2 linked regions of the Homo sapiens genome follow. The protein of the gene in region 2 purifies or fractionates together with the protein of the main gene of each other region. This does not show direct contact. Each region holds a gene or a part of one and is shown on either strand. Other genes may lie near its edges.

Region 1 (3,653 bases), on a different chromosome or scaffold from region 2:
GGAGTGAAGTGAGGGGCAGGGGTTTGGTACCTGCAGCAGGGCCAGGGCCCAGGTGAAACGGATGCGACAGCAGCGGAGAGAAGAGCGGGAGGCAAAGACGCCAGCCTGGTACAGCATCTGGTACCTGAGGTTAGGGTTGGGGGGAGGAGAGGAGGCTCCTCCAGGGACCATCCCGCTCCCCCCGGTGCCTACTGGGCAGGGCAGCTGCATCACCACGGCGCCCTCCCAGCCCACTGCCCTCGCTCCTCTTACCAGCGGTATTGCTGAGCGTGACTCAGGGAAGTGTTCCAGAAAAAGAGGAGTTCAAACTGCAACAAATACCAGACAGGGGAGATGGACGGGGCTGTGTGGGTCCCAGCCCCAATCGCCACCTCCACACCCCTCCTAGCACCCCTCACTTACAAGTCCCTGGTTAATGAAATACTCGGCAAAGTAAACTACGACCAAGGGAACAATGTACCACAGCAGACCCTGGAAAAGGCAGAAGATATAAGCGGGGGGCCTGGAGGTGAGCAAGCCCCACAGGGACATACCCCAGCCATCATCCGAACCTTGAACACTGTCCACCTTTCCCGAAGGGAGAGGCTGGAGCTGGAGCCTGCAGGGGAACAGAGAGAGAAGGGCAGATGAAGTTTTCACACTGAAGACTCGGCAAAGAGGCACCGGTATGACAGAATTAACCAGACCACGCAACAGTGGGAACTCACTTCCATGCCACTGGATTGGACACTTAAAAATGGTTAAAATGGCTGGGCGCAGTGGCTCATGCTTGTAATCCCAGCACCTTGGGAGACTGAGGTGGGCGGATCACCTGAGGTCAGGAGTTCAAGACCACCCTGGCCAACATGGAGAAACCCCATCTCTACTAAAAATACAAAAATTAGCCATGTGTGGTGGCAGGTGTCTGTAGTCCCAGCTACTCGGGTGGCTGAGGCAGGAGAATCACTTGAACCCAGGAGGCAGAGGTTGTAGTGAGCTGAGATTGCGCCATTGCACTCCAGCCTGGGCAACAAGAGCGAAACTCCACCTCAAAAAAATAAAGTAAGATAAAAAATAATAAAATGGTAAACTTCAAGTAATATACATACTTTATCATGATGAAAATAAAAGCTAACCAGGTGAGACCTCTTCACGTCTCTTTGATTTTTAATTTTTTTTATTTTTTGAGACAGAGTCTCACTCAGTTGCCCAGGCTGCAGTGCAGTGGTGCAATCTCAGCTCACTGCAGCCTCTGCCTCCTGGGTTCAAGTGATTCTCGTGCCTCAGCTTCCCAAGTAGCTGGGACTACAGGCATGCACCACCACACCTGGCTAATTTTTTTATTTTTAGTAGAGACGGGGTTTTACCATGTTGGCCAGACTGGTCTCAAACTCTTGATCTCAAATGATCCATCTGCCTCAGCCTCCCAAAGTGCTGGGATTACAGGTATGAACCACCACGCCCGGCCAATGTCTCTTGTACAGCTCCACAGATGGCCATTGGCCCACCCTGCCCAGTCTCACTGGCCATTCTCTGGTTCTAGAACATCCCAGCTTATCCCCACCGCAGGGCCTCAGCACTTGTGATTGGAATGCCTGGCACATGGTAAGTACTCAATTAATATCCCTTCTTCTCTCCCTCCCTTCCTTCCTTTCTTTTCTTTTTTTTTTTTTTTTTTTTTTTTTTGCGACAAGGTCTTGCTCTGTTGCCCAGGCTGGACTCAGACTTCTGAGCTCAAGTGGTCCTCCTGCCTCAGCCTCCCAAAGTGCTGGGATATTACAGGCGTGAGCCACTGTGCTCGTCCTCAACAAGTATTTCTCAAATAGACAAAGGCTTTTCCCATAACCAGTACACTCACTCTCTTTCCCCTCTTAACTTTGCCTATTGCAGAGAGGAAAAGGCCAAACCCAGAGAGAAAGAAAGTGACCTCTCTGAGGGTCTGTGTCTCCTACCTGGCTTCGACTCCGGGGCCTCGGTTCTTATGAGGGGCTGCCGGGCTGCGCTCTCTGCTTCTTCTTCCCCTCCAGGGTCCTGGGCCTCAGGAGATGTGAGCAACAAGAAATAGCTAGGAGTAGGATGAAGGCAGGGTCAGAAAACCCTACTGGCTGGGAAGGTCCCCAGGGACCATCTAGGCCACTTTTCCCAGGGAACACCTCTACCTTTGAACACTTTCAAAGATGGGTAGCTCACTGCCTCTAAGGCTCCTACGCTGTGCGGGAGAGCTCCAATTGTGGACAAAGGCTTCTTTCTTTGGACCTGAATTTATCTCCTTATTCCTATTCATGGGCCTTCATTTTGTTTTGATTTTTTTCAGAGACAGGGTCTTTCTCCAGCATCCAGGCTGGAATGCAGTGGTGCAATCATAGCTCACTGCAGCCGCGACCTCCCAGGCTCAAGCAATCCTCCCGCCTCAGCCTCCCAAGTAGCGGGGACTACAGGCACGTGCCACCAAGCCCGCCTCATATTTTCCATTTTTTGTATAAATGGAGTCTCGCTATGTTGCCCAGGCTGGTCTCAAATTTCTAGCCTCTAGTGGTCCTCCAGCCTCAGCCTCCTAAAGCACTGGGATTACAGCTGTGAGCCACTGTGCTCAGCAGGCCCTTGTTCGGACTGCTGGCTCATACCTAGCGAGTCAGTTCTGTTTTCTGGCCATTATTATTCTAATGGTCGCTCTAGCTCCCATTAATTATACGTTCACTCTGTGCTAGGCCAGAACTTCCTCGATTTTAGTCACTTAGGTTCTGGCTTCATGTTATTTGCCATATCCATATTCCTCCTGTATATATATATTTTTACTTAATATTTTTCTTTAAATGGACTCACTTTTTCTACTTAGACTTGTCCTAAGCACTAATCTTGTGAAGGGCCAGGTGTGTCTGGCTAGTTCAAAGTGTGTGTTTTTTTTTTTTTTAGACGGAGTCTCGCTCTGTTGCCCAGCCTGGAGTGCAGTGGCACAATCACGGCTCACTGCAACCTCTGCCTCCTGGGTTCAAGCGATTCTTCTCCTCAGCCTCCCAAGTAGCTGGGACTACAGGCAAGCGCCACCAAGCCTGGCTAATTTTTGTATTTTTAGTAGAGACGGGGTTTCACCATATTGGCCAGGCTGGTCTCAAACTCCTGACCTCGTGGTGCGCCCGCCTCGGCCTCCCAAAGTGCTGGGATTACAGATGTGAGCCACCATGCCCGGCCAAAGTGTTTTGTAATATGCATGAAAATACACAGAACTAATCAGGCCGGGCGCGGTGGCTCACGCCTGTATTCCTAGCATTATGGGAGGCCAAGGCAGGTGGATCACTTGAGGTCAGGAGTTTGAGACCAGCCTGGCCAATACAGTGAAACCCCGTCTCTACTAAAAATATAAAAAATTAGCCAGGCATGGTGGCATGGGCCTGTAGTCCCAGCTACTCGGGAGGCTGAGGCAGGAGAATCACTAGAGCCCGGGAGGCCGAGGCTGCAGTGAGCTGAGATCACACCAGTCACTGCACTCCAGCCTGAGTGACACCATGAGACTCCGTCTCAAAAAAAAAAAAAAAAAAAAAAAAAAAAGGGAGTCGCCATGGTTCAGGCCTGTTGCCCTGGCACTCAGGCAGGCAAGGCTACACATTCGAGGCCAACCTGGTCAACACTGATTAAAAAAAAAAAAAAAAAAAAAAGGAACTAATCAAATAAAGTCC
Region 2 (3,653 bases):
ACTTAAAACATAATAAATATGAAAGCCTCAAAAATTTCATCAGTGCCTAGAGACTTAAATACATTGTTACTATTCCACTAAAATCTAAAAGAATCTTTGAGAATAGACATTTATAAGGTACATTTGGTGAAACATTTTACTCTTGGTAAATTAGAACAAGTCTAAGAATGACTCATACTTTCGATTTTTTTTTTTTTTTTTTTTTTTTTGAGACAGGTTCTGGCTCTGTCACCCAGGCTGGAGTTCAGTGGTGCGAACTTCGCTCACTGCATCCTCGACCTCCTGGGCTCAAGTGATGCTCCCACCTCAGCCTACCAAGTAGCTAGGACTACAGGTGTGTACTCCACCACGCCCAGCTAATTTTGTCTATTTTTTCAGAGACAGGGTCTCACTTTGCTGCCTAGGCCAGTCTCAAACTCCTGGCCTCAAGCAATCCTCCTTCCTTGGCCTCCCAAAGTGTTGGAATTATAGATGTGAGCCACTGCACCTAGCCTTAGATTCATTTTAATAAGCTTTTTAAAACAGCTCACTCTTGTTCCTATCATTTCTGTGGTAAGCTTCAGAGCAGTGTTGATATCTAAAGTCATACTCAAAGTTACTCAACTTGACAGGCCCTAATGTCAGACAGTACTAAAACCACTTGAGTCTTCATTTGAATATCACCACCATAAGCTTACACTGCGACGTTCCTTCCTGAGCTTAGTATGCATTTTCCATGAGCAATGAAAACATCTGACAACATGGGTCCCAGAAAATGTATACATGTGGGCTACATCATCTCTCCTCACAGTTTGATTAACAATTTTTATTAAATAAACTCACTATGTAATGTTTTGTGCCATACAGCTTGGGAAAGTTCCTAGACATCAGGAAATCAGCATGTTCTCAAGCAAATACACTTGATAGACATTCATCTCAGCAGGATAAATATCTACAGGAGAAAATCATGAAGCTACCAGAATGTGGCCAAAGGGAAAAATATCCTATGATCATTCCAGATTTTTTGTGTTGGTTCTCCTCTCCTATTCCCATCCCATCCCTGGAGAAAACAATAAGGCAAAGTTTCCCGTTTTTTTTTTTTTTTTTTTTTGAGACAGGATCTCCCTCCGCCACCTAGACTGGAGTGTAGTAAGCCTATCTCCGCTCACTGCAGCCTCAAGCAGTCCTCCAACCTAAGCCTCCCAAGTAGCTGGGACTACAGAGACATACCACTACGCTAATTTTTTAGTTTTTGTTTGTTTGTTTGTTTTTGTAGAGACAGGGTCTCACTATGTTGCCCAGGCTGGTCTTGAACCCCTGGGCTCAAATGATCCTCCTTCCTCGGCCTCCCAAAATTTTGGGATTACAGACATGAGCGACCACATCCAGTGCAAATTTTTTTATACCAAGGCAAAGATGATCATGCAAAAGAAACTAATGAATGAACAAGCCGTTGGAACAAAAACAATTTGTTAATGCTTCCCTGGCCTTACAAATACTGGAGTGGTAATGGGTGGAATCCATTCTATTAAAATAGAATGGATTTTAAATGTGTGGGGGTTTAGATATTCTTCTACCACCTCTGATTTTTCTGGAAACCATTACAGTTCCACAATCCTTTTCCCTCCAGGTGATCTGGGTCACTTTCATCACTTTCATCACTATCAGTTCATCCACTATTTGCACCATTTGGCCAGCTAAGAGTTGGCTAAAAGTGCAGCCAGGTGTGTCGTAATGATGCAAGACTATAGCAGTATAATCCCCATGATGCATTCACAGGATGCATTACAGAGAAGGGGAAGGAAAGAGTGCAATTCCAAGATGAACTTTGACTTGCAACCCACACTCCCTTCAACAAACAGCTTTAAGTAAATCTTGGAAATATTGTTCAAAATACATGTGACAAAACGTGACCATCTTTCCTCTGTTACGTGGCGGGTATGATCCTTTCTGTATTCCTAACATCTCTCAATTTGGGTTGAATGTGCAGTCCCTAAGTCATAAGCAAGTGCCAGTCACCACTTATGGTTGCTCCGAAGAGAAAATTAGACCTTGCTTTAGTTTTTTCTTCCAAAAGAACAACTTTTCATTTCTTAACCATTGTCAGCAATTTCCATAGGCTGGATTGACTTACCTTCATGATGTTTGGAAGTTAAGACAATGTATTTGGCACCAGAGGCCTGAAAAATATCTGCCCACTGGTTGGCATTAAAAAATTTTGCTGTAAATAGTGGTCCAAAATCTTCATATTTGAAACTAGGAGGGTAATTATCTTTCATAAATTCCACATACTTCGGTATCTTTTCCTTTTGCCAATACCACCTAAGGGGAGGAAAGGAAAGAGTGCATAAACAGCACATACACACATATTTAAAAGAACTGCTCCAGCTCCCCTTACCATTTACCCCTCACACAGATAGGACCCAGATTCTCTTTCTCACTTCCCCATTAGTTTGACTTGGCTTTAAAGATAGCTTATGCAAACTAAACCCCCTCTCATTTTCCACCTATCCCCCTGTGATATCCACTCAGCTCATAAACTAGAGCATTCTAGGCAACTCAGCTACCCATTCTCTCTTTTTTTTAAGACAGGGTCTCACTCTGTCACTCAGGTTGGAATGCAGTAATGGAATCATGGTTCACTGCAACCTTGACCTCCTGTGCTCAAGCAATCCTCTCGCCTTAGCCTCCTGAGTAGCTAGGACCACAGGCACGTGCCACCACACCTGGCTATTTTTTTTTTCTTTGTAGAGATGTGGTTTCCATATGTTGCCCAGGCTGGTCTTAAACTCCTGGGCTCAAGCGATCTTCCTGCTTCAGTCTCCCGAAGTGTTAGGATTACAGGCATGAGTCACCGTGTCCAGCCCCATTCTCTTTTAATTCTTCACTTTTAAATCACAACATGTAGTATATGTCTTTACACATTGTCCCTTGTAACATAAGTGATTAGGGCTTCTAAAAGGAAGACTACATGCCTAAAACATAATATGCATCTATTATATTCAGTAGTAGAGAACACTTTGGAGGCACAGGACAGAAAGGGAGGCAAAAGTAAAATTAAAAAGATGCTGTTATTTTAATAAATGGACTCAACCTTCAACAATTACTTGCTATACGCATTCATTCTAAGCAATGGTATATTGACCCTAAACTGCGTAAGCAAGACTTCATGAGGAAAAGCACATCTACACATTTTAGATAAACACAGCAGTAACTATCCTCATGAAATAGATGCAACCCCCATTTTTGACCCACCTCCTGCTTTTTCTATCACCATTCCTTTCATATGAGTATTTCTACAGGATAAGCAAATCCATAATCAGCACTATATTTCCCAAGACGATCAGGAGACTCTGCTAAGAAGAAATAATTGAAGGGCATACTATGCGGCAGGCATGCTGTTTGCCTGCCCAAAAGTCGTATTTACGTAATTTCCCAGCTTCCACTACAGCTGCGACAGGGATGTGAGATCCATGCTGGCCAAGGGAACTTGAGGGAAAGCCAACTTTGGGGACTGTGGAAATGGTTTCCCTCCTAATGAAAAGAGACACTGGCCTTCCTGCCTTTGGGCAGGGTTGTGTGAAGTTATGGTGCCTGGCTGCCATCCTGTGACCATGAAGGGACAAGTCCCCAGGCTGAGGATGAAAGAAAGAGCCCGTGTCTTTGATTTCATC

Evidence for each region. Proteins that work in one complex are often made in the same cells at the same time.
Region 1: the proteins of FUCA2 (region 2) and CLN3 purify together in Homo sapiens (affinity purification with mass spectrometry; one large-scale study listed by BioGRID and IntAct). This does not show direct contact.

Annotation. Positions count from the first base shown.
Region 1 is NC_000016.10:28,482,075-28,485,727, forward strand, and holds part of CLN3 (battenin), read right to left. Parts: intron 2,045-3,653; coding exon 1,932-2,044; intron 599-1,931; coding exon 552-598; intron 472-551; coding exon 403-471; intron 309-402; coding exon 253-308; intron 125-252; coding exon 31-124; intron 1-30.
Region 2 is NC_000006.12:143,505,124-143,508,776, forward strand, and holds part of FUCA2 (plasma alpha-L-fucosidase precursor), read right to left. Parts: intron 2,302-3,653; coding exon 2,114-2,301; exon of another isoform or gene 847-2,113; intron 335-846; exon of another isoform or gene 293-334; intron 1-292. UniProt on the Homo sapiens protein: Alpha-L-fucosidase is responsible for hydrolyzing the alpha-1,6-linked fucose joined to the reducing-end N-acetylglucosamine of the carbohydrate moieties of glycoproteins.